7 linked regions of the Homo sapiens genome follow. The protein of the gene in region 4 purifies or fractionates together with the protein of the main gene of each other region. This does not show direct contact. Each region holds a gene or a part of one and is shown on either strand. Other genes may lie near its edges.

Region 1 (3,500 bases), on a different chromosome or scaffold from region 4:
TGAGCCAAAGGGCAACACTGCCAAGAGGGCTATATGAAGTTGTTTTCTAAAGCTATTTTTGTTAGGAAATTTAATTTCTCTAGTTCCCTTTCCCATGGTGAAATAAGGACAGTTCATTCTGTTAATCTGGGTTTTCACCCTGACTCTAGATTCTCCTTAATTATACCTTTATTCCTATCCAAAATGGCATCCTTTGACTTCCTAAGAAATCCTCTGCCCTCTTTCATTCTCTAGTCTCATTCTCTTTTAGTCTTTTGCTTCCCTCTCGTTATCCTTGCTCCCCTTTCTCTCTTATCACCCCATATGGCAAAAACATTATCTATCTAAAACTTGGTTTAGAAGGGAAAACCCAAAGGAGAGCATGGAGGATAAAGGATCACTTAAGAAATACATGCTATTGGTCTGAAGGGTCTCCTAGAGAGACAAGACTTGGCAGTACTTTGACAGTCAACTAATAAGAATTGTGAACAGGGATTGTTGGAGAAGGATGCGGTTTTGAGTAGACCCCCTGGACAAGCCCCCTATTTCTCATGGGAGTTGGTAAGCACCACAAAACCACAGCTGAAAGGAAAAAGAAAACTCCACCACTGGCCTTTTTCCGAGCGTGGCCGCCTTCCGCTCGGCTCAGTGCCCGCCACATGCCCAGGAGTGCGTCTGGATCCTTGAGGGGCGCCCTTCGCAGGTGGACAGTGCTTACGCTATACTGCAAAAGAGCCAGAAAAGTGCCCATGAGAACCAGAAAGCAAACTTCCAGCCAGCAGGATCATCTCTCTAGGCATCTAAGATGGGGAAATCAATACAGGTATCTCGGCAGCATCTGAATGCCAGGAAAGGTGAGGGAGAGATAATTTCCCCCCTCCCCTGTTCAACATAATGGTGGTAGAAGGGAAGAAAAATGTATTCTCTGTGACTTATCTACTGGGAACTAGACAAGGCCAAATGATAGGGGAAATGTCATCATTTGTAATAGGCAAAAAAGAAATAAGCAAAGAAGAAAATGTCCTAGGGTCTAAATCTAGTTATGTAAGAAAGTCTGTGCATGCTGGCACGAAGAATTAAAGCTTCTGAATGAAAGCAACCCATTCCACCACTTGGATAATGCCATTCTTAGAGGAAAAGTAGAGAAAGAAGTAGAAAAAGAGGGAAAGAACTTCATTTTAAGATATAAAAAAATAAAGCACGAATACACCAAAAATAAAAGGCTGACATTCTCAAAAGATGGTAATTCTCATGATCTCACCGTAAGTCAGACAAAAACAAAAGAAAAAGAGTTGATGAAGCTGAGTACAGAATATGAGACTTTGACGTAAGAGATCTTCGGTGGTTCATAACCTCTCCAGTCTTTTTAACTACTATGTTTGTAAAGTGCTTAATATGAACCTGCCTATTAAACAAAACAGAATTAGAAAGCATGCTTTAGACTCTTAGCAGTGCAACAAAAAAAAAAAAGAAAAGAAAAGTTTTTTTACTCTAACGAATAAAAAAACTTAAAAAAAATTTTTTTTACCCTATTTAGGTAGAAGTAAATTTCCTACAAACCTGATCAAACTCAAAATCTCAATCCTCCTAAGAAAAATGAAAGGGGCCAGGTGTGGTTGCTCATGCCTATAATCTCAGCACTTTAGGAGGATCACTTGAGGGCAGGAGTTCAAGGCCAGCCTGGTCAACACAGCAAGACCCCATCTCCAGAAAAAAACTAAAAAAATCAGCCAAGTATGGGCATGTGCTTGTAGTCACAGCCACTTGGGAGGCTGAGGTTGGGAGGACTGCGTAAGCCCAGGAGTTAGAAGCTGCAGTAAGCTATGATCACACCACTGCACTCTAGCCTGGGTGACAGAGCAAAACTCTGTATCTTAAAAAAAAGAAAGAAAGAAAAATGAAAGGTTAACAATTATCTGCAGAATACTGTACACCATAATAACTTCCAAACTTTCAAGCAATGTTCTTCTCAATTCAGGATGGGAGTGCTATCTGATGAAGGTGGTTACTGGCATCATCTCCTTATCTAATTAGCCCTGTTAAATAGACTTTAAATATTCAGAGAGGTTTGCTGGGTTTCTTCCAGATTCCAAGTGACTAGCAAAAATAGCAAGCACAGGGGCTCAAGAAAATCATTCCAGCCAGGCGCAGTGGCTCACGCCTGTAATCCTAGCACTTTGGGAGGGCAAGGTGGGTGGATCACCTGAGGTCAGGAGTTCGAGACCAGCCTGGCTAACATGGTGAAACTCCATCTCTACTAAAAATACAAAAATTAGCCTGGCGTGTTGGTACGCGCCTGTAATCCCAGCTACTTGGGAGGCCTAGGCATGAGAATCACTTGAATCTAGGAGGCGGATGTTGCAGTGAGCCGAGATCATGCCAATGCACTCCAGCCTGGGTGACAGAGCGAGACTCTGTCTCAAAAAATAAAATTAAAAAAAAAAAAAAAATCATTCCAGGACACCAGGCTGATGAAGTAACCTATCTTATCCTTTTCAGATTGACACGCTACATGAATCAAATGGATCTCTCACATACACACACTTCCTTGGCTTAAGAGAACAGGTGCCCATTCTGGAAAATGTGATAATTAATTATAGGCAATTTATTTATTTATCAGAAAATATCAGCTGGTACACTAAATGATCAGGACTACTCTAGGCTCCAGCAATCTTTATTTTCTAAGATAACTGCTTCTTAAAATCTCATCTATAGTACAATTTGGTCACAGCATGTCAACTTCTCTTGCCTGTCCTTTTAACAGGGAGTTGACAATTGACCTGTGTCCTTTCCCCATAAATTAGATATTCTTCCATTTAATCTTCAAGACAAGGGATCATCACCTGGTAGCCAAGGAAGGTAACAAATGTTTTTGGCAAAGGGAACGGACCAGTTAATCTTAAAGACCATGTGGGATCAGTCTCCTATGTGATGGACTAATAAACAGCTCACAAAGACAGTGTGGTTATTTGAGAGGACAGAGGGAGGACTAGATCTGGTTGTCACCTGATCCTGGGCCCCATGGAACCAAAAAATGATCAAAAGATTACCAGAACACAAATAATAATAGACACCAAATCCCAGATTTCTCATTAACTTCAAGTTTTAAGAGTGTTTCCGGCCTGGCCGGTTGGCTCATGCCTGTAATCTCAGCATTTTGGGAGGCTGAGGTGGGCAGACTGCTTGAGCTCAGGAGTTCAAGATCAGCCTGGGCAACATGGCTAAACTCCGCCTCTGCTAAAAATACAAAAATTAGCCAGGCATGGTGGTGCATGCCTGTAATCCCAACTACTTGGGAGGCTGAGGCACGAGAATTGCTTGAACCTGGGAGGTGGAGGTTGCAGTGAGCTGAGATCATGCCACTGCACTCCAGCCTGGGCCCTGGACCACAGAGTGAGACTCGGTCTCAAAAAAAAAAAAAGTGTTTCCTAGAATCAGAAAACAAGGTTCCTTCTACCAGGGTAAAACTAAAATGTGGGCTGGGTGCAGTGGCTCACGGCTGTAATCCCAGCACTTTGGGA
Region 2 (3,500 bases), on a different chromosome or scaffold from region 4:
TAACACAACTAGGAATTGGCATAGCTGGGCCTTAGAGCCAGGTCTGTCAGGCTCCCCCACCTCTGCACTGCCACCGTGTACCCTTTTATGAATGGCTTTCAGGAGATAATGTCTTTAACCCAGCAGAGGAAAGCTCTGATGGTGGAATGGCAGGCACTGGCAGGGGAGCAAGATGTCTCAATGGGGGTGGACTTGATAGCTTCTTTCCTCCTATGCCTGTGGTCCTGTCTGTCATTCAGACAGATTTCCAGGGCAGAGATGCCCCTAGGCCTGAAGGCAGGGCATCGATGGAGACGATGGATTTAGAGCCTGATGGGGTACTTGGAACAAGATGGGATGGTAAATGAGATTGGACAGGCATGCGGGGGCCTTGAATGCCAAGCCAGGGAGGTGGGACACTTGTCAGTAATAGAGAGCTAAGGATGTGTGTTCGTGGGTGGCCTACTGTGGGGGTGACAGTGATCCATTAGAGGGGATGGCTGCTGAGCTGCCCGGTGGCCGTGGCCCACTGTGGCTGTCCAGACACCACCCTGTGGGTCCAAGTGGTCCACAGAGTGGTATGGGCAAGGCCATGCTGGGCTCTGAGCCTGTGCCTTGGGGTGCTCCCAGGCAAGACTGTCCCCCTCTGAGCCTCCTGTGTGCCTCCACAGGTGATAGGGCTGGGCCTCGTGGACCTGAATCTCAGCTCTGCTGTTCCTCGCTGTGTGCCCTGAGAGTCTCACCCGCTCTGAGTCTTAGTCTTATCGTCTGTAAAATGGAGCTTGGCAGTACCTTCACTTTTGAGGTGATGGTAAAGACTGCACGAGCCCTTGACTTTCAGGGAGATTGTCAGGTAGAAAGCCACACAAACCCAGCATTTCCTCTTTATTAATCCTGCCTGGAAGCCTTTGGAATCAGGACCCTTGAGAGGCAGAGATCGGGGGAGAGAAGAGGCCAAAGGGAGGCTCTGTCCCTTCTCCCTTCTGGAGTCCCAGTAAACGAAACATCACATAGCCAAACCTGATGCCAAAAGATGAGTTTTGTGCCCCAAATTGATTCTCCAAGTCTACATGAAGACTTGGAAGTCTGTTTTTTCCCTGGTACAGTCCAGACAATTAAGGGTCTGGAGGCAGAGGGGAGGACCCTAGTTTAACTCCAAGTATTTCCTTAACTTGGGGCAAGCCACTTCCTCTATCTAAACCCCAGTTTTCTCATCTCTATAATGGGGAAATAATCCCTGTCTCAAAAGGTCGTCATGAAGCTAAAATAAGATTATGGGTTTGACATGCTTAGCCCCATCCGTAGCACTCAGTAGATGCCCATTAAAAGGTAGGGAATGTTCCCCATAGGGTATCTATAAATGCTGATCATCAAAAAGTGAAGCACAGTGCCCAGCTCTCTCTCCTCCCTGTCCCTTCTCCCCCGAGCCACAGACCTGTCCTGGGAGATGAGGGTTCCACGTGTGTCTTGTTCCTGCCCCAGAGAGTGAAGACGAGTACAGCGATGACGATGACATGAGCTGGAAGGTGCGCCGGGCAGCTGCCAAGTGCATCGCAGCCTTGATCAGCTCGCGGCCTGACCTGCTGCCCGATTTCCACTGCACCCTGGCACCTGTGCTCATCCGCCGCTTCAAAGAACGCGAGGAGAACGTCAAGGCTGACGTCTTCACTGCTTACATCGTGCTGCTGCGGCAAACACAGCCCCCGAAGGGATGGCTGGAGGCCATGGAGGAACCCACCCAGACCGGCAGCAACCTCCATATGCTACGTGGACAGGTGGGCGTGCCTTCACCTCCACCCCTACCCCCGATTTGCCTACCCAGCCACTCACTGTTAGTGTCCCTGGACTTGGAAACTCAGCTGGGAGAACATCCAGCCATGGAAGGGAAGGGAAGGGGTCCCTGGGGTGGGGGGCGGGAGCCAGCCAGGCTTCTGGAGTGTAGTAGTGACAGCCAGCCTGCCTGAGTGAGCTTGAGCAAGTTGCTTGGTCTCTCTGTACCTGTAAAATGGACGCAGAAAATTTGCCTACTCTCCAAGGGTCTGTGTGCGGTCACCAAAAGCCTGGCACAGAGTGAGGGACGAGTGCTTGGGAGATATCTTGATGCCGACATCCTCCCTGGGGATGTGTCTGGCAAAGCCTCCTGGTAGTGGGCAGGTGGGTAGGTTTCTTGGGTGTTCCCTGACCTTGACTTCCCCCTCCTGCCCACAGGTGCCCCTTGTGGTCAAGGCCCTGCAGCGGCAGCTTAAAGATCGGAGCGTCAGAGCCCGCCAGGGATGCTTCAGCCTCCTCACCGAGCTGGCGGGTGTCCTCCCAGGCAGCCTGGCCGAGCATATGCCTGTGCTGGTATCAGGTAGGCTGGACTGCAACCAGGTATCTGCTGTTCTGGGCCACTTCCAGAACCCAGACCCCACCCCTGAGTTGAGCCCCCAGTTCCTGAGACAGTCTGAGACCCAATCCCAGGCTCAGTCCCTGGTCAAGAGTCTCCAGTGGCCTCCCACTACCAGCAGTGAGAACAAGGCTGGCTCCAGTGAGTTCCCTGGACATGTTTCCCTCAGCCCTGGCCACTGGTCAGGGCTGACTTCTTGGAAACTTCTGCAGAAGAGTTTAGGTGCTTCAGTCCAGCTCAGGCACTTGTAGGTACCCCAGCCTTGCTTCCAGGGAGGGCCGTGTTGCATCAGAGGCGGTGGCCTCATAACCTTTGCATTCACCCTGCAGGCATCATCTTCTCGCTGGCCGACCGCTCCAGCTCCTCCACCATCCGGATGGATGCCCTGGCCTTCTTGCAGGGGCTGCTGGGCACCGAACCAGCTGAGGCCTTCCACCCACACTTGCCTATCCTCCTGCCACCTGTGATGGCCTGTGTGGCTGACTCTTTCTACAAGATTGCAGCCGAGGCCCTGGTGGTGCTGCAGGAGCTGGTGCGGGCCCTGTGGCCGCTGCACAGGCCTCGGATGCTGGATCCTGAGCCATATGTTGGAGAGATGTCTGCTGTCACCCTGGCGCGACTTCGTGCCACTGACCTGGACCAGGAGGTGAAGGAGCGGGCCATTTCCTGCATGGGCCACCTTGTAGGCCACCTGGGTGACCGGCTTGGGGATGACCTGGAGCCCACGTTACTGCTCCTCCTGGACCGCCTGCGGAATGAGATCACCCGGCTGCCCGCCATCAAGGCGCTTACGCTGGTGGCCGTATCCCCACTACAGCTTGACCTACAGCCCATCCTGGCCGAGGCACTGCACATTCTGGCCTCATTCCTGCGGAAGAACCAGCGGGCTTTGCGACTGGCCACACTGGCAGCCCTGGACGCCCTGGCCCAGAGCCAGGGCCTCAGCCTCCCACCGTCTGCCGTGCAGGCCGTGCTGGCTGAGCTGCCTGCCCTGGTCAACGAGAGCGACATGCATGTGGCCCAGCTGGCTGTGGACTTCCTTGCCACAGTGACCCAGGCCCAGCCAGCCTCTTTGGTGGAGGTCAGTGGCCCTGTGCTCTCAGAGCTGCTGCGGCTGCTGCGTTCGCCCCTGTTG
Region 3 (3,500 bases), on a different chromosome or scaffold from region 4:
CTCTTGAGAATCAAGCGAGGTGGTGTCTGGAGCTAGCCACTCAGTGCTGTTATTTTTACAGTCGTGGTTTACCCAGGGGCTCTCCTCTGGGGGCTAGAAGATACTTGAGGCCCAGCTTCATGGGGAGCTCCCCTTTGCCCCAGACGCCATGTTGCAAACCCTTGAGAAGGATCCTGGACAGAGGCCCTTGCTTTTCATCTGGAATTCTGAGTGCTGCAACCTTGCAACTTTGGTCCAGTTAGAATTGGATCGGAAGCTAGTCAGGCAGCAGGCGAGCCCCAGTTACTCCCAGATAACCTCCTGCATTGCTGTGGTTTCTGGAGCTTTCTGTAGGGTGGGCAGTGGGAGCCAGGGTAGGTGGGGTAGGCCCGCCCCTGCGAGTGTCTTCGGCACCCTCCCTTCCACCCCGCCCTGCGCGCGGTGCTCTGCGCCGACAGCCCGCCAACCTCTTAGCCCCAGGCCCAGGCCCTGGTGGAGGGGAGAGCTGGGAGGGCTGAGCTGGTCCAGGTGGCAGAGCCACTCTTGGAGCCCCAGCTGGGGTGGGTCCAGGGCCTGTGCTCCTGATTCCCATCTGGAGTAGCCTCCCAGAGCTGCTTCTGGGCTGGTGGTGTGGCAGTGCCATCCTTCATGTATTTGGGTTCTCTCCACAGAGGGACCATCTGTGTTCTCTCCACCCCTGTCTTTGAAAACAAAGATGATACCACGCTGTACATCTTAGTCTGCAATCTGCCATCTTCACGTGACAGTCTCTCAAGATCTTTATATATGAGAGACATATTTTCCTTTTTAATATCTTCACTGTATCTCTTAGGAGATCTGTGATTTTTTTTTTCCCAATCCGCCATCATTTACTCAGAGTCAGCATTAAAAAAATTTAAAATTTGTGAGAGGACAACTATGTCTGATAAAGCATGTCATGGAAGGCTGGGCACAGCAGCTCACACCTGTAATCCCAGCACTTGGGGAGACCGAGGCAGGCAGATCATGAGGTCAAGAGATCGAGACCATCCTGGCCAACATGGTGAAACCCTGTCTCTACTAAAAATACAAAAATTATGGTGGCGGGTGCCTGTAGTTCCAGCTACTCTGGAGGCTGAGGCAGGAGAATCGCTTAAACCTGGGAGCCACTGCACTCCAGCCTGGCAGCAAAGCGAGACTCTGTCTCCAAAAACAAAAAGAAACAAAAAAGAAAAAAGCCTGTCATGGAATGGGCTCCTGCCCTGTCCCCGGCCCCTGCTTTTTTTTTTTTTTTTTTTTGAAAAACAGGAATATTAGTGTAGGGTTTGGGAATTAGGCTGTAATTTGTTCCTAAGGGGGCATGGGTTAAAGCAAGTTGAGAAATACTGGCTTGAGATGTTGGGCCAGGGAGTGCAGAAGCCAACACCGCTCTGCCCGGGTGTGCACCAGGGCTCAGTGCGTGCTCTGCCCGGGTCTGCACTGGGCCCTGCTGCGCCCTGGCCCTGGGGCCACTTGGACTTTGGCTGCCTCACTCTTTCATTACCCAAGTATCTACTGAGTATCCACCATGAGTTCTGGGGGCAGAACTGTGTTCAAAGCAGGTGGAAATCTCTGCCTCCGTGGGGTGGACATAGATGGGTTATGGGGACTCCAGTCTCTGAGTGGGTGGGGAGGGCAGCGTGCCTTTTGTAATTCCAGCTACCAAGCCTGGAGCAACTGCTGTTTTTCTGGAATCTGTTTTTTCAATCTGTGCCCCAGTTCCTCCTTCATAATGGGTGGGAGTAGGGATAGTTGATGATAGCAAGTGCTTCCCATTTGTTATTAGAGGCTGTTCCTTTCCTTCGACTCCCAGTTCCCCTCCCTTGGAGGCAGGCAGGGCTCCAGGATCATGACTTCTCTTCTGGAGATGTTTGTGCCTATGTGAGCATGTGTCTGCAGAAGTTCATTATTTTCTAACTTAGGAGCACAGAACTGTATACTGTTCTTCACCTTCCTTAATTTTGAAATTTTTTATAAAGGCGTGGTCTTCTTATGTTGTCTAGGCTGGTCTGGAATTCCTGGGCTCAAGCAGTCCTCCAGCCTCTGCCTCCTAAATTGCAGGGATTACATGAGTGAGCTACCTTGCCCATCCCTGCACCTTCCTTTTTCTCTTAAGAAGTCTCAGATCATCCCAAGTCAGCATACAGACCTGCCTCAATCTTTCCCCCAGCTGCAGAATGTCTCATTGCACAGATGCCTCACAGGCATTCTACCTCACGACAGCCTGTGTATTAAACACTGCTGTGATATTTCATCAAATCGAAGGCGCTGTCATTGGGGAGGCACCCTGTTTCATATAGTGCCAAGAAAAAGGCGTGCCCAGTTAAATCAAGACAGACCCCAACTGTGAGATTAATCTGCATTCCAGCAGTGTCAAAATGTGGAAGAGGGTGCGTTGTGGGATGGATGGAAATAGAAGTAGTTTCGCGTGGTACACCAGGAAACGAGACTGGGGAGGAATACAGCCCAGCAGGGTGTCCCGGCTTGGATTTTGAAGCCCAGTCCCAGCCACACTTGTTCCCTGCCTGACCTTGGGTAGGGGCCCCAGTGTCTCAGGAACACAGGAGCAGTGACACTTGCCCTGGGGCGGGGGCCATCCTGGAAGATGCTGTGAAGGGCTGGCTGCACTCCCTGTGGCTTATTTAAATCACTGGGATTTGCGTGATTACACTCTCTGAATTTTCTCATTCTTAGTGAACATTTTATTTTTCTTGTTGGTCATATGAGTATTTTCTAGATACAAGCAAAATACACGGGGGGTTCAAAATGCGTTGGGTTGAAACACCTAATTGCAGTGTGGTCAAAAATGGGGGATGTGGACAATTTGGTGTAATTCAGCCTAATATATTTTTCATTTTGGTCTCTGGTCATTTTCACTTATTAGACAGAACAGTTTGTAAGTATCCAAAGAAAATTATTTTGTTTTTTTTTTAGCTGATTGCAGTGGTATGATCATGGCTCACTGCAGCCTCCACCTCCTGGGCTCAAGCAGTTCTCCCACCTTAGCCCCCTGAGTAGCTGAGACCACAGGCATGTGCCCCCACACCTGGCTAATTTTTTATCTTTGGTCTCTACAAAGTGGGTATCCATGTTGCCTAGGCTGGTCTCAAACTTCCGGATGCAAGCCATCGTCCCGTCTCAGTCTCCCAAAGTGCCAGGATTGCAGGTGTGAGCCACCGAGCCCAGCTCAAAGACAGTTCTTTCTCAGCAAGTTCTAAACCATGAGTGACAGAACTAGTTTATTGTTCTTTATTTTATTATTATTATTATTATTATTATTATTATTATTATTTTATTATTATTTTGGGATGGAGTCTCGCACTGTTGTCCAGGCTGGAGTGCAGTGGCGCGATCTCGGCTCACTGCAACCTCCGCCTCCCGGGTTCAAATGATCCTCTTGCCTCAGCCTCCCGAGTAGCTGGGATTACAGGCGCCCGTCACCACGCCCGGCTAATTTTTTGTATTTTTAGTAGAGACTGGGTTTTACTATGTTGGCCAGGCTG
Region 4 (3,500 bases):
CACCCAGTTTATCCAGCAGGAGGGGGATTTCCACTTTTATTGCAAAACATGCTTGCTTGATGCAATGCATTTCAGATCTAGAAAAAAATAATGCAAGCAAGCTACATTTACAGATGTGTAAACAGGCAAAATTTCCAGAACCGTCCAATTTTACTTTTCCAAATTTATGGAACCAACCCAGATTTTTTAAATGAAAATACTAAAACCATATGTAACCGTAAGACAAGCTAAAATGTAAGCAGACAGCCTGGGAAGCACTGCCCTACTGTACAGGTGTGATATTAAGCACAAGCCATCCTCTGGCCTCTTATGAGATGTTGTTATTCTCTGAAAAACTTTGATGGAAAAGGTTTCTGTTAGGCTTAGACTGAATTAGCTAAATGACCATGCCACAGTATTATTGTATCACTCTTCTCACACACCTAGGCACTGGTTGTGGATAGTTGCCATGGTGACAATCAAGATAATCCAGATGACCTAAACAAATGTCTGTATGCAGCTGACACTGCTATTCTCCCTCACAGTCTTGTCAAGAGCCACAGTAGCTATGGCAGACATTTGGTTGATGGTTTCATCATTTCCTAATACGAGAGTCTGGCACTATGTTGGAGAGAGGAATCACTTCCTCAGAGATAGGTTCCTTTCAACTCACATGTCAACAGTTACTGTACAAAAAGCTCAGAATACAGTAATGATTAGAGCTTGACCCCTGACTTTAGGAACTTAGAACCAAAGCCCAAAGTCCCAGGCCAAGGGCAGACATTGTGAGCAGCAGAAGGGTGTTTTTTATGGAGAGCCCCATAAATGGATGGGTGTAGACCTTGAAGTCTGAGATGGGAAATATACCAGAATGCTCAATGCATCAGACATGAAGCCCCACGGGCTTCCATTTGACATGCTGGCAATCTGAAGGACAAAGGGCATGGGTTATTTGGGCCTTTTCCCCACTCCTTCAATATGGCTGAAAGTGCCAGTGGGGATTACAACCTAAGAAACCCTATGCCCCTTCCTGAGGGCTTGATTATTGAATCCTGATCTTCCTGGAATCTTTCACTTGAGATGATCACCTGCCTAACATCCAACATGTTACTATGCTCTTCTTTATGTACATGAGTTACTGGAAACCAACAATAAAGGAGAGTGAGTCATACTCTCCACATATGCGCCAATTAATTTTTTAACTTACTTATTAGTATTCTTGAAGAACTTACTATCTTAAGTATTTTACCAATAGATGATGCATTTTCCAGCAACTCAATGGAGTTCTACCTTAAAGTATTTACCATTGATCCAAAATTGGAGGAACTACCTTAGATTCTTTTAATAACCTAGAAAGGATTGGAGCTTGTATTATTTCCTAAACCATAGGCAGGCAGTCTAGCTTCCCTGCTGGATCATAAGACCAGGACAGCAGAGATTGGGTTTGTATTGATCAGTAGTAGGGAAGTATTGATTGTCTAACATCTAGTAAGTTGTCTTTATCAGTATAGACATAGACAAAATACATGTTTTATGAATGAATAAATAATAAGAACCTTAAGAGCTGTTTTTTTCCCATTTAAGAAAACAAAAAGGAAAAGAGAAAAATGATCTTCTGGAATAACTCTGCTTTGATATTCTCCTTTTGTTCCCCAAAAAATATATTCCAGAAAGGCAAACCAAACCTGCTCAAGTTGCCTATGCACAGACAATCTCAACAATATGGCTCACAGTGAGCAAGCAGAAATTCAGGGTCTGGAATTGAATGTGAGTTATGGGAAGAAACAGTGTGTGCTTTCACAAAGATCCTTTTGTCAGACAAGGGAACAGCATGATAATCCAATGGAACTGGTTAACATGACCCAAGATGACATGACCACAGATATACTAGTCGTTCTGAAACTTGCCCAAGAAATTGCAATCGTTTCAGCAGAACTCCATGAAATATTGACAAATTAATTCCATCATCAAACTAGGAGTGATATTATCAGGTAAAACTATGATCTCATGTATGTATTTGGTCTTTCTGGGTCACAATGTGACATGAAAAATTTTAAAGGTCATATTTTAGCAAGATCAAAATGAATTAGATAAATCAACTTCACAAATGTTAAGCGAAACATGATCCTATTGAGCTGAGAAAGAAGTACTTGAGATCGTTTGAGTTTTGACTATCAAATGTCAGCACAAAAGCAAATATCAAAAGCTTAAGAAAAAAATTATTTCAGGAAAAGAAAAACACATCAAATTGAGAAAGTGTTGTTGAATAACTTTGTTTTTAGAACTGGAAATTTAGGCTTATTAGACATGACATTGATATTACAAAGCCCTAGTTTTCATGAAAACATAACTAGATAACCCCAAGGTGTATAGGTTAAAATGAACTAATTAATCAACAATTATGCATCCTGTGTCTATTTTGTGCAAGGTACTTCCTAGACACTGTAGTTTGAAAGAATAATTTCCTGTAGAAAAACCTAATCTAATAGGACCTACTCATAATTTGGCAAAATCATCCTCATAATTCCATGCTACTGAAATGGGGGTGTAATAAAGAAAAAATCATTTGTTTATTCATTTAACAGGGTTTATTAAGCACCAATATATGCCCAGAACTTTGCAGTGCACTGGAAGTTCAGAGATAAGAAAACCACAGTTTCTGCCATCAAAATGCTAGGAATCTAGAGGTCTCAAACATCAGAGGTCCCTTCAAACTATGTCTACCAGGAAAATAAAATACCTGATTTCATCCCTGCAAACAACTCTATACAGACAGAAATGCTTCCTAGCTTGGAAACTATAGAAAATTGAACATGAAAATGAGAGCAAAGGTTCTACATCAAAATGGCAATGATCCAATCAGCCCAGTCAAGGCTGAGTGGGTTGAATGGGGACTTCGAGTTTGGATTCAATGCTTTGAACTTCATAGCTCCAGAGAAGCTGTGCAAAAAGGGGGGATTCTAGGGAATCTGAGGAAGATTGTTGGAGAAACCAGCTTTCTTCTTGTCTCCTAATCCCTGCTAAGATTGATACCAGTCAAGGAGCTGAGTTACTTTCATTTCATTATGTTGACCAAGAGAAGCTTATGATACAGACTATGACACAGCACCTATTTCAAGAGAAAGATGTTACTCTACTTATGGGAACCTGCAGATCAAATTCTCCTGGGGCAAGAGAAGAAATTTGTTCAGCAGCCTAAGAAGTCAACTGTACTTTGGACAGTGCTGCCAAACACACCCCAGGATTCTCCCACCCCTGTGCTTTCCCAGAAGATGCCACATAGCTGGTATTTGGTTTTCATGAATAACCAAAGATTCTTCTTTGCTTCCTGAACCCCAGGCATCCTTAGGAATTTGCTTCATGTCCTCACTTGTCCTTGAAGGCTTGTTTTTCAGGATGAACTTTTAAAGTCTAAGTTGTTTATATTCAAATCAACCCAATGCTATTGTTGCTGATATTAAACCATTCCAAACTGAGCCAACTGGCCCCTAAACAAGCCAGCAGGCAGCCCCTCACTAATG
Region 5 (2,749 bases), on a different chromosome or scaffold from region 4:
CAAAGGCTTCTGTTTCCCCCATCGAGTAGGAGACAAGGCCATCTGCTGAAAGGGACCCAGAGGTAGGGGACTGGACTCTGGGGCAACTTGAAAAGGTTTGAAGAAGTCTCTTAAGCCTCAGTTTCCTGGGTAAAATAACAGTATCTGTGTCATACAGTTCTGAGGATTAAAAGAGCTAATACTTGTCCAGAATTAGCCTTCGAGCCTCACGCATAACAGGTGCACAACGGATGCTCATGGTTACATGCCCCACGGAGTCATCAGCTGCCAACACTGAGGGCAGATGCTACTTGCCCGTGGTTAGCCTTTTAAGTGCCTTGATTCCTCATCCAATAGCCTGTTTTGGTACCATAGAACAAATTATAAAAAGTATTTTAGGGGCTGGGTGCCTGTAATCCCAGCATTTTGGGAGGCTGAGATGGGAGGATCGCTTGAGGCTAGGAGTTCAAGACCATCCTGGTCAACATGGTGAAACCCCATCTCTATTAAAAATAGAAAGAAAATTATTTTAAAATAAAATTAGGGACTCATTGTCAAGCCTCTCTTTTCTGTATTCTCAGGTTTTGATGGTACAGTCCAGGTCTATGATGCCACATCTTGGGATGGAACACGGAGCCAAGATGGAACACGGAGCCAAGTAGAACCTCTCTTCACTCACAGAGGTCACATCTTCCTAGATGGAAATGGGATGGACCCTGCTCCTTTGGTCACCACCCACACCTGGCATCCCTGCAGACCAAGGACTTTGTTATCAGCAACAAATGATGCCTCTCTGCATGTGTGGGACTGGGTGGACCTTTGTGCCCCCCGCTGACACCAGCATCTTTCCATCTAGGCCTCTAGAAAGGGGAGGAGCTGCTGTAGTAGCAAGGGTGCTCATGTAGGACTCAAGTGACTACCAGTCCCTGTTACCAGCTGTGTGGCCTTGGGCAAGTCTGCCAGCGTCACTTAGCCTCAGTTTCCTTATCTGTAAAATGAGGATAGTAAGAACTACCTCGTAGTGATATTGCGAAGGTTAGAAGAAACGCATGGCATAATTACTTGGTAGCTATTGTTAGATCTGGGAGTGTGAAATGGTAGCGTTTTGTCCCTGTCTTCACACTATCATAGGGAGAATCAAAAGAGCTAACAAATATAAACATGCTTTGTGAATTTTTTTAAAGAAAAAAATGTAGAGGGGCCAATAAACATGAAAAAATCCCAGCCCTAGTAGCAATTAAGGAAATAGCAAAACAGGATTTCTGCTCCTCTTGAGTGGGTCTCATGGGAACACAGGTGCACTTTCCCACACTTGTCCCCCCAGGTGACTAGGTTCAAGAGACATTTGCTTTTGGTGGCCCCACAAACATTTCCTTTTGAGGGCCCATAGTGAATATTAAAGTGTGCTGGACATGGTGGCTCATGCCTGTAATCCCAGCACTTTCAGAGGCTGAGGTGGGCAGATTGCTTGAGCTGAGGAGTTTGAGACCAGCCTGGGCAACATAGCAAGATCCCTTCCCTTAAAAAAAAAAAAAAATTTGGCTGGGCATGGTGGCTCATGCCTGTAATCCCAGCAATGTAGGCAGCCAAGACAGGTGGATCACTTGAGTCCAGGAGTTCGAGACTAGCCTGAGCAACATGGCGAAACCTTGTCTCTACTAAAAATACAAGTTAGCTGGTTGTGGTGGTATGAGCCTGCAGTCCCAGCTATTCAAGAGGCTGAGGTGGGAGGGTTGCCTGAGCCTGGCAGTTGAAGTTTGCAGTGAGCTGTGATCATGCCACTGTATTCCAGCCTGGGCAACAGAATGAGACCCTGTTACACACACACACACAAAATAGATAAGTTGTTCACTCTGTCAGCATCTATTAGCCCTTCCCATGTGCAACACTAATTACATGCTAGAAATACATAAATGAGAGGCTTCCTAAGGTGGTTGAATTTTTTTTTTTTTTTTTTTTGTAGTAGAGATGGAGTCTTGCTCTGTCACCCAGGCTTGAGTGCAGTGGCGTGATCTCGGCTCACTGCAACCTCCACCTCATGGGTTCAAGCAATGCTCCTGCCTCAGCCTGCCAAGTAGCTGGGATTACAGGCACGTACCACCATGCCCAGGTAATTTTTGTATTTTTGGTACAGACGGAGTTTCACCATGTTGGCCAGAATGGTCTTGATCTCTTGACCTTGTGATCTACCCACCTCGGCCTCCCGAAGAGCTGGGATTACAGGTGTGAGCCACCGCGCCCGGCCAGGGGATTTCTCCTGTGTGAATTCGCTGGTTAAGTGATAATTAACTGCAGTTAAAATTCAGGTCAAGCATGTGGCTCATGTCTGTAATCCCAGTACTTTGGGAGGCTGAGGTGGGAGGATAGCTTGAGTCCAGGAGGAGTTCGAGATCAGCCTGGGCACCATGGTGAACCCCTGTCTCTAAAAAAAAAGAAAGATTTTTATTTAAAAAACCTAAACAAATTCAGATAGGAATTTAAAGATAGACCAGGCACAGTGGCTCACGCCTGTAATCCCAGCACTTTGTGGGGGGCCAAGGTGGGTGGATCACTTGAGGTCAGGAGTTCAAGACCAGCCTGGCCAACATGGTGAAACCCCGTCTCTACTAAAAATATAAAAATTAGAGACGGGCATGGTGGTGGCACACCTGTAATCCCCACTACTCAGGAGGGTGAGGCAGGAGAATTGCTTGAACCTGAGAGGTAGAGGCTGCAGTGAACCGAGATTGTGCCACTGCATTCCAGCCTGGGTGACAGGGTGAGACTCCAT
Region 6 (3,260 bases), 7.6 Mb from region 4:
TCAAATTGATGCGGAGCAGTCATCTATTCGATTCCCCAGCCAGTGGGCCCTGAGCTTTGTCATCTTTCCTCCAGTTTTGGAAGGCTGAAGACATTGATACTCCAGCTTTGGCAAAACCCCTCAAAGTGGAAGTTGGCATCAGTGCACAGCTCACCTCCCAGGACTTTGCCTACACACAGGTACTGGGGTGAATATTTCTGACTCTCCTGCCGGGTCATGGATGCACTTACAAATGTGTTTTCAGTAAGAGGCTTAGCCTAGACCCTTAGTCTAGATCTCTAGCCCTTCATGTTGAAAGCCTTTTTTGATCAAAATTTATTGTGTCTTAAGACATTGCTTGAGGCCCCAAGAGCCATGTGGTCACATACATCTCTCTCTCTTCCCTGCTTACTGGGATCAGAAATACCTCTTAACAAGTCATCATTGACAATTTCTTGGCTGGTAGGCTCAGAAGCCCCAAATGATGCTTACATGTTTTGAAACCATCTACAGGTCCGGACTTTGCTTGAATACTTCTATTGACAAAGAGCTCACTCCATCAGCATTTCCTGTCCCATTTCAGCACCTGTGTTAGAAAGTTCTTCCTTACATGCTTCATGTTACCTAATACATTAAGCCATGCAGGGGACTAACGGAGCATAGCAATGTGGCCTGTTAAGGGTTCCAGGAGAAGAATGGAATTTCAGGCACATGGCACAGGATATTTCAGGCACAGGACATGTGGATGGAATTAAAAAGAACAGCAATGGGAAGGCTAGGAGAAGGGACCCAGTATTTATTAAGAAGTTGCTATCATGTGCTAAAAAAAAATCTAGGAGGTTAAATCAAATAAACTGATATGAAAGTGTCCATGAAATAAGTATTTTTATCTCTATTTATTCAGATGAAAAAAAATCAAGGCTTAATTTAAGTAACTTGTCCAAGGTCAAGGAGTTGACAAGTGGCTGAGCTGGAGTTCAGCATCTCAGACATCTTCCTTTGAATCCTTGCCTTCCTTGTGAATTTCAGATGACGGAGCATGACGGCTGCATGATTATGGGGTCACCGGGCCTGTCCTGGCCCTGAGGGACCAAGGATCAGAAGGGCAGAACCAACTCGCTCAGCTAGTGAAGTGCAATGGACATGATCTGTTCCTGGCTTACCCTCCGCTGGCCTTCAGGAGGTTTCTGAATGCACCAGGGGCCTAGAGAAGCAGCAACTGCTGGACTGTATTGCCAGGTAGCCAGTAGCGTGGGGCCCTGGAAGAGGCTGGAGGATACTGCGCTGTCACTGAGACACCTGCCCCAGGTCCTCCATCTCAGCCACTGCCCACAAACACAGCTCCACAGCCAGAAAGACCCAGCCACAGAAATGCCAGCAAACAACACCCCTGGCTCCCCACATCCCACGGTAAAGCTCCAAACGCTTGGAGCACACACAAGGCCTGACTCCAGGTCACCTTCTCTACTGGGACAGAAAGGGTGCCCTGGGGGTGGGGAAGGGCCTGGGGCTGGCAGAGCCAGGCTGTATTTGGGTCATTTTCCAGGAGGCCTGGGTTATTTCTAACACCCCCTCCTCCAAGAAGACAACTTTGCCTCCTGCCCCTTGAGGTTCTTCCTTCTTGTGGCATCCAGCATTTTCTCTGGTAACTGTTGTGGGTATTTTTTGCAGTTTGGGAAACTAAAAAATATAGAAAACTGCAAGAAATAATTACAGTCACCAATATGCTTGCCACTCAGAATCAAACACTGCCAGAGTTTTCCATATTGGCTTTTCTAGGCTTCTATATGCATCTATATCTAATCTGGATCTGTGGCTGGATCTATATCTGTAGCTATGTGTGTACCTGTATCTTGATCTATTGTGCTTTTGAAAGGAAAGTACGTACTCAAGTCCCCGGTGACCAGCACCCTCATGCTGACATCAGATGTCAAATGCAACTCCAGTTCAGGTCACTCTTCTACAGGGGATGTGTATCCTTTCTACCTTTTAAACATGTTGTTATAGACACGTTCTGAGGCATAGAAAATTTATAATTTGGGGGGACATTGTCTACACAAGTGAGGTTGGGCTGAGCCCATCATCCTGCAATGTGTTGTTTCATTCAATGGCGTATTTTTGGGCTCTGTTGAGGTTGACACACATGGATGCTGTTTGTTCCATTCAGAAACAGCCCAGGTGGCCAGGCCCTCAACTACGCTGAGGCATCCTGAACGGAAGGGCTGAAGAGACCGCCCTGGGGTCTCCACCCCCTACTGCAGCCAGACCTTCTGGGGCTGCCTTCCCTGGGGAGCCTCGAGCAGATGCTGAATGAGCTCCAGGAACTGAGGGCCACTGGACACCCGCCCCCACATGCCCCCAGCCCACACCACATCACAGTGTGCTCCCATCATTCACTGAGCGACAACAGGAGGCCACAGATGGAACAAAAAATTTGTTCCTTAGGCCGGAGGCCACAGGGTGACCTTGCTCCCAGCGAGGGAGGTTTGGGCCTGGGACTTCAGGTCCTCAGGAAGTTCCCTCAGCCCCGCAGGCCTCCTGATGCCAACATGACTCTGCCCCATGGGAGGCCAGGGCAGCCACTTCCTGGCTCTGCCTGTTTGGCCAACTGGCCTTTAGGAAGCCCCGCTCTCTGTCCCCCAATACTCCATGGGAGTTTCAGTGCCCAACGGGCACCTGACGAGCCTGGTATCTGCTGGGGACCAAGGGCTGTTTATCCTCCCTGGGACCTGGGGAGCTAAGGGTCAACACAGCCAGAAGCCTGCCCCCAGAACAGGACTCTTGTGGGTAGTGTAGACACACCCCAGCTCTGGCCCTCAAGGGAGATGTGAGCCGTGTGCTTTCTCTCTCCGGTCCTCCCTGAGGAACGCAGGGCCAGCTGCCCACTGTGGCGGCAGCTCGGGCCCAGTCACACTCCTTCACTGGTGATCTCCCTCCCCTGCAGGCCTCCTTCCACCTCCCAGACAAGCTGCTGGTGACCAGATTCCTGTCTCAGCGTTTGCTTATGTGAGATCTCTAACTCAGAACCCGTCCCTTCCTGGGTCCGGCTTCTGCTGGGAAGCCAGCCACCTGAGGTGGGGGCTGACGGGCTGGGTGGGGGCCCCGGACTGCACTGGGCTAGCAGATGCAGGGAGGCAGGGAGGGGGAGGCAGGCCATTTATTGAAGAACTGCTTGCAGACATGGACACACACAGCCATGGTAACCAGACGCCACCCTGGGGCCAGGGAGCACCCAGAAACAGCCCTGGGCTGCCAGCCCAGGCCTGGACATTTGCCCACCA
Region 7 (3,500 bases), on a different chromosome or scaffold from region 4:
TTTAGAAAATGATACCTGTCCAATTATAAAATTTAAAAATTATCCTGGTCAACAGGGTGAAAGGAAAATTAATTAATTAATTTTAAAATTATGTAGAAGAATTTTATAATGGCAATACAAGCTGAAATAGTCTTCTATTTCAAAGATAAACAAATTCAGTTTATTCATAAAATCACATTAAATGTTTCCCTTTTTTTTAGTTTGCTTATCTGAAATTAAGCAATAGTGTCAGACTTACGTGGTTCCAATTACCTTTTCCACTACTGTGCAGTTTTCACCCTGTGTTGCCTATTCTCTTAAATATTAAGGATATGTACAGATTCTTAAAAAATACTTTGTGGGCCAAAACTATTGGTGTTCATTCTAGAATTACTATTTTAAATTTGTTTTCCCAGCTTCTATGTTCCTGATTTATTAAGCATTTCTCCTTAACCCCATATTTTGCCAGCTCATTTTTCAGCCTATCTTAACAGTATTTTGGGCTTCTTCTGAGGAAATTAGAAATTGCTCAATTTACTCATTTATAACTGCTCTAGTTTGGAAGTTTCTACCTGAGTGGGAAAGACTTAAGAAATCCTTGTAATAGTTCTCCAAAATTGATCTCAAATATTTTACTCTCCTATCAGACTTTTTCTGTCTTGCTTGTCAGACTTAATGTTGTCATAATTGATAGGTCATTTGAGGGCAAGTAATAACAGTTGTCAGAGGAAGAAGACTACATGAAAAGTATAATAATGTGTTAAGCCTCAATTTTTTATTAATGTGTGTCAATGTTTTCTGCTAACTTTAAGGCAATGTGTTTCAAAGTGTAGACCTGTGACCAATTAGAATAATTGAAGTGTTTGTTAAAAATGAAAATTCTCCTGGGCCCTGTGCTGTGGCCTGAGAATTAACATACTTCTCAAGTGAGTTTTATTCACACCAAAGTTTGAGAAACTTTGATTTAAGATTTCTATCATTAGATACTACAATAAGAAGTAGAAAATAATTTTTGATTTTATTAACTGAAAAGTACAAATAGGTCATTTTATTTTATTTTTTTATTTTATTTCATTTATTTTTTTTGAGATGGAGTCTCGCTCTGTTGCCCAGGCTGGAGTGCAGTGGGGCAATCTTGGCTCGCTGCAACCTCCTCCTCCTGGGGTTCAAGCAATTTCACTGCCTCAGCCTCCCGAGTAGCTGGGACTACAGGCTTGCGCCACCATGCCCAGCTAATTTTTTGTGTTTTTAGTAGAGACGGCGTTTCACCGTTAGCCAAGATGGTCTCGATCTCCTCACCTTGCGATCTGCCCGCCTCAGCCTCCCAAAGTGCTGGGATTACAGGTGTGAGCCACCACGCCCAGTCTTTATTATTTTTTATTTTTTCAAGTTTATTAAGAAAGTAAAGGAATAAAAGAATGGCTACTCCATAGGCAGAGCAGCCGAAATATGTCTTTTTAACGTGAATCACTTACTCTTTGAAGATGGTTTAGAAATCCAGAAGACCAGCCGGGCGTAGTGGCTCACGCCTGTAATCCCAGCACTTTGGGAGGCTGAGGCGGGTGGATCACCTGAGGTCAGGAGTTCAAGACCAGCCTGACCAACATGGAAAACCCTGTCTCTGCTAAAAATACAAAATTAGCCGGGTTTGGTGGCGCATGCCTGTAATCCCAGCTACTTGGGAGGCTGAGGCAGGAGAATCGCTTGAACCTGGGAGGTTGAGGTTGCAGTGAGCCAAGATCGTGCCGCTGCACTCCAGCCTGGTAACAGAGCAAGACTCTGTCAAAAAGAAAAAAAAAGAAATCCAGAAGACCTAGTTTCTATTCCTCACTCTGATTTGATATGTGAAGTTAGGTCACTTAGACATTTAATTTTTCTAGGCTTTGCTTTCTTGCATCTAAAAAACAAGGTGATTGGAATGTTATTAATCTATCAAATATAAACATTTCTTTTCTTCCCTTTAGTCCGCTTCCGGACAACAACAGGGCTTGATTCTGCAGTAGATCCTGTCCAGATGAAAAATGTCACCTTTGAACATGTTAAAGGGGTAAGTTAAGAAGATTGCCTTGCCTTCTTCATACATCCTCTAATTGATACTCTATATGAGGTCGATATTTGATTCTACAGTGTATTCTAGAATAGGTAAAATTGTGTCCAAAAGTATTAGAAACATTAGTATTTTGGGATAAATAATAATAGCCAAGGATCAAATCTTGCTTTATGGCAGGGGATAGTATAATTTATGAAGGAGCAGCCTGGTGTAGTGGAGTGAATGTGGACTTCAGAGTCAAGCTGACTAATGTTTGAAATTCATTTTTATACTTATTAGCTATGAGACCTTGAAGAAATTACTTTAGATCCTGACAGATAATGTATGTGCTTGACACATAGTAGATATTTAATAAATGGTCCTTCTTTACCTGTACCTCTTACTGATCTTTGTAACTCCACTATCTAAAACATGTTAGACAATGTATATTTCTTGAATGAATAGAATGGATAAATGCTAGTTTATAGTTGATTAATTTGTTAAATATTTAATAGTATTAAGTGCTAGGCCCTATTTTAGCTGCTGGGATAGAATAAATAATCTCTGCATTCTTAGAGTTTAAACTCTAAAAGCAGTAATTGGACACTGATATGTGATGTAAGAAAAAGTAGAGTATGTTAAAAGAATAAAAGTGTATGGAGGAAAAAGTAGAGCAGGGTAAAGAGGATTGGGAGTTTTGAGAGAAGGCTTACAGTTTTAAATGGAGTGTTCAAGGTGTGATTGATGGAGAAGGTGACATTTGAGATAAAATCTGAAGGAGAAGATGGAATAAACTGCATTTATCTGAGAAAGGAACGTTTCTGACCAAAGGAACAGTTTGAGCAAAGGCTCTCAAGTAATAGGGTGTCTGACTTGTTCATTTTTGAAAGTAGAACTAATAGGATTTCTTATTGGAACGTAGGGTGTAAGAGAAAAGAGGAGTCAAAAAGAGCCACAAGATTTTTGGTCTCAGCAATTAGAAGGATAGAATTGACATTTACTGAGATTTTTGTTTTTGTTTTTGAGACGGAGTTTCGCTATTGTTGCCCAAGCTGGCGTGCAATGGCGTGATCTCGGCTCAGTGCAACCTCCACCTCCCAGATTCAAGCGATTCTCCTGCCTCAGCCTCCAGAGTAGCTGGGATTACAGGCACGAGCCACCACGCCCAGCTAATTTTTTGTGTTTTTAGTAGAAACAGGGTTTTACCATGTTAGCCAGGCTGGTCTTGAACTCCTGACCTCAGGTGATCCACGCAGATCAAAGTGCTGGGATTACAGGCGTGAGCCACGGTGCCCGGCCTTTAGTGAGGTTTTAAAAGGCTGTGAGTGGAGCAGATCTGGGGGACAAAGGTTAGAAATTTAGTTTTAGGTATGTTAAGTGTGAGAGATACGAATGAAAGTGTTGAGTAACTTGGATATACCACTTTGGAGGTATGGGAGAGGTCTGAGCTAGAATTAAAAATAGGAGATTATATTTATATGTATGTTAAGTC

The links.
Region 1: the proteins of KCNQ3 (region 4) and IPO9 purify together in Homo sapiens (affinity purification with mass spectrometry, with the first as the bait; one large-scale study listed by BioGRID). This does not show direct contact.
Region 2: the proteins of KCNQ3 (region 4) and CAND2 purify together in Homo sapiens (affinity purification with mass spectrometry, with the first as the bait; one large-scale study listed by BioGRID). This does not show direct contact.
Region 3: the proteins of KCNQ3 (region 4) and AKT2 purify together in Homo sapiens (affinity purification with mass spectrometry; one large-scale study listed by BioGRID and IntAct). This does not show direct contact.
Region 5: the proteins of KCNQ3 (region 4) and WDR73 purify together in Homo sapiens (affinity purification with mass spectrometry; one large-scale study listed by BioGRID and IntAct). This does not show direct contact.
Region 6: the proteins of KCNQ3 (region 4) and TRAPPC9 purify together in Homo sapiens (affinity purification with mass spectrometry; one large-scale study listed by BioGRID and IntAct). This does not show direct contact.
Region 7: the proteins of KCNQ3 (region 4) and YME1L1 purify together in Homo sapiens (affinity purification with mass spectrometry, with the first as the bait; one large-scale study listed by BioGRID). This does not show direct contact.

The regions. Positions count from the first base shown.
Region 1 is NC_000001.11:201,832,157-201,835,656, reverse strand, and holds part of IPO9 (importin-9), read right to left. Parts: intron 1-3,500. UniProt on the Homo sapiens protein: Nuclear transport receptor that mediates nuclear import of proteins, such as histones, proteasome and actin. Serves as receptor for nuclear localization signals (NLS) in cargo substrates.
Region 2 is NC_000003.12:12,813,680-12,817,179, forward strand, and holds part of CAND2 (cullin-associated NEDD8-dissociated protein 2), read left to right. Parts: intron 1-1,461; coding exon 1,462-1,754; intron 1,755-2,187; coding exon 2,188-2,329; intron 2,330-2,694; coding exon 2,695-3,500.
Region 3 is NC_000019.10:40,243,846-40,247,345, reverse strand, and holds part of AKT2 (RAC-beta serine/threonine-protein kinase), read left to right. Parts: intron 1-3,500. UniProt on the Homo sapiens protein: Serine/threonine kinase closely related to AKT1 and AKT3. All 3 enzymes, AKT1, AKT2 and AKT3, are collectively known as AKT kinase.
Region 4 is NC_000008.11:132,124,596-132,128,095, reverse strand, and holds part of KCNQ3 (potassium voltage-gated channel subfamily KQT member 3), read left to right. Parts: 3' UTR 1-3,500. UniProt on the Homo sapiens protein: Pore-forming subunit of the voltage-gated potassium (Kv) M-channel which is responsible for the M-current, a key controller of neuronal excitability. M-channel is composed of pore-forming subunits KCNQ2 and KCNQ3 assembled as heterotetramers.
Region 5 is NC_000015.10:84,641,535-84,644,283, reverse strand, and holds part of WDR73 (integrator complex assembly factor WDR73), read left to right. Parts: intron 1-560; coding exon 561-814; 3' UTR 815-2,749. UniProt on the Homo sapiens protein: Component of a multiprotein complex required for the assembly of the RNA endonuclease module of the integrator complex. Associates with INTS9 and INTS11 in the cytoplasm, stabilizing the INTS9-INTS11 heterodimer and blocking the active site of INTS11.
Region 6 is NC_000008.11:139,727,225-139,730,484, forward strand, and holds the end of TRAPPC9 (trafficking protein particle complex subunit 9), read right to left. Parts: 3' UTR 501-3,260; downstream 1-500. UniProt on the Homo sapiens protein: Functions as an activator of NF-kappa-B through increased phosphorylation of the IKK complex. May function in neuronal cells differentiation. May play a role in vesicular transport from endoplasmic reticulum to Golgi.
Region 7 is NC_000010.11:27,130,385-27,133,884, reverse strand, and holds part of YME1L1 (ATP-dependent zinc metalloprotease YME1L1), read left to right. Parts: intron 1-1,943; coding exon 1,944-2,026; intron 2,027-3,500. UniProt on the Homo sapiens protein: ATP-dependent metalloprotease that catalyzes the degradation of folded and unfolded proteins with a suitable degron sequence in the mitochondrial intermembrane region.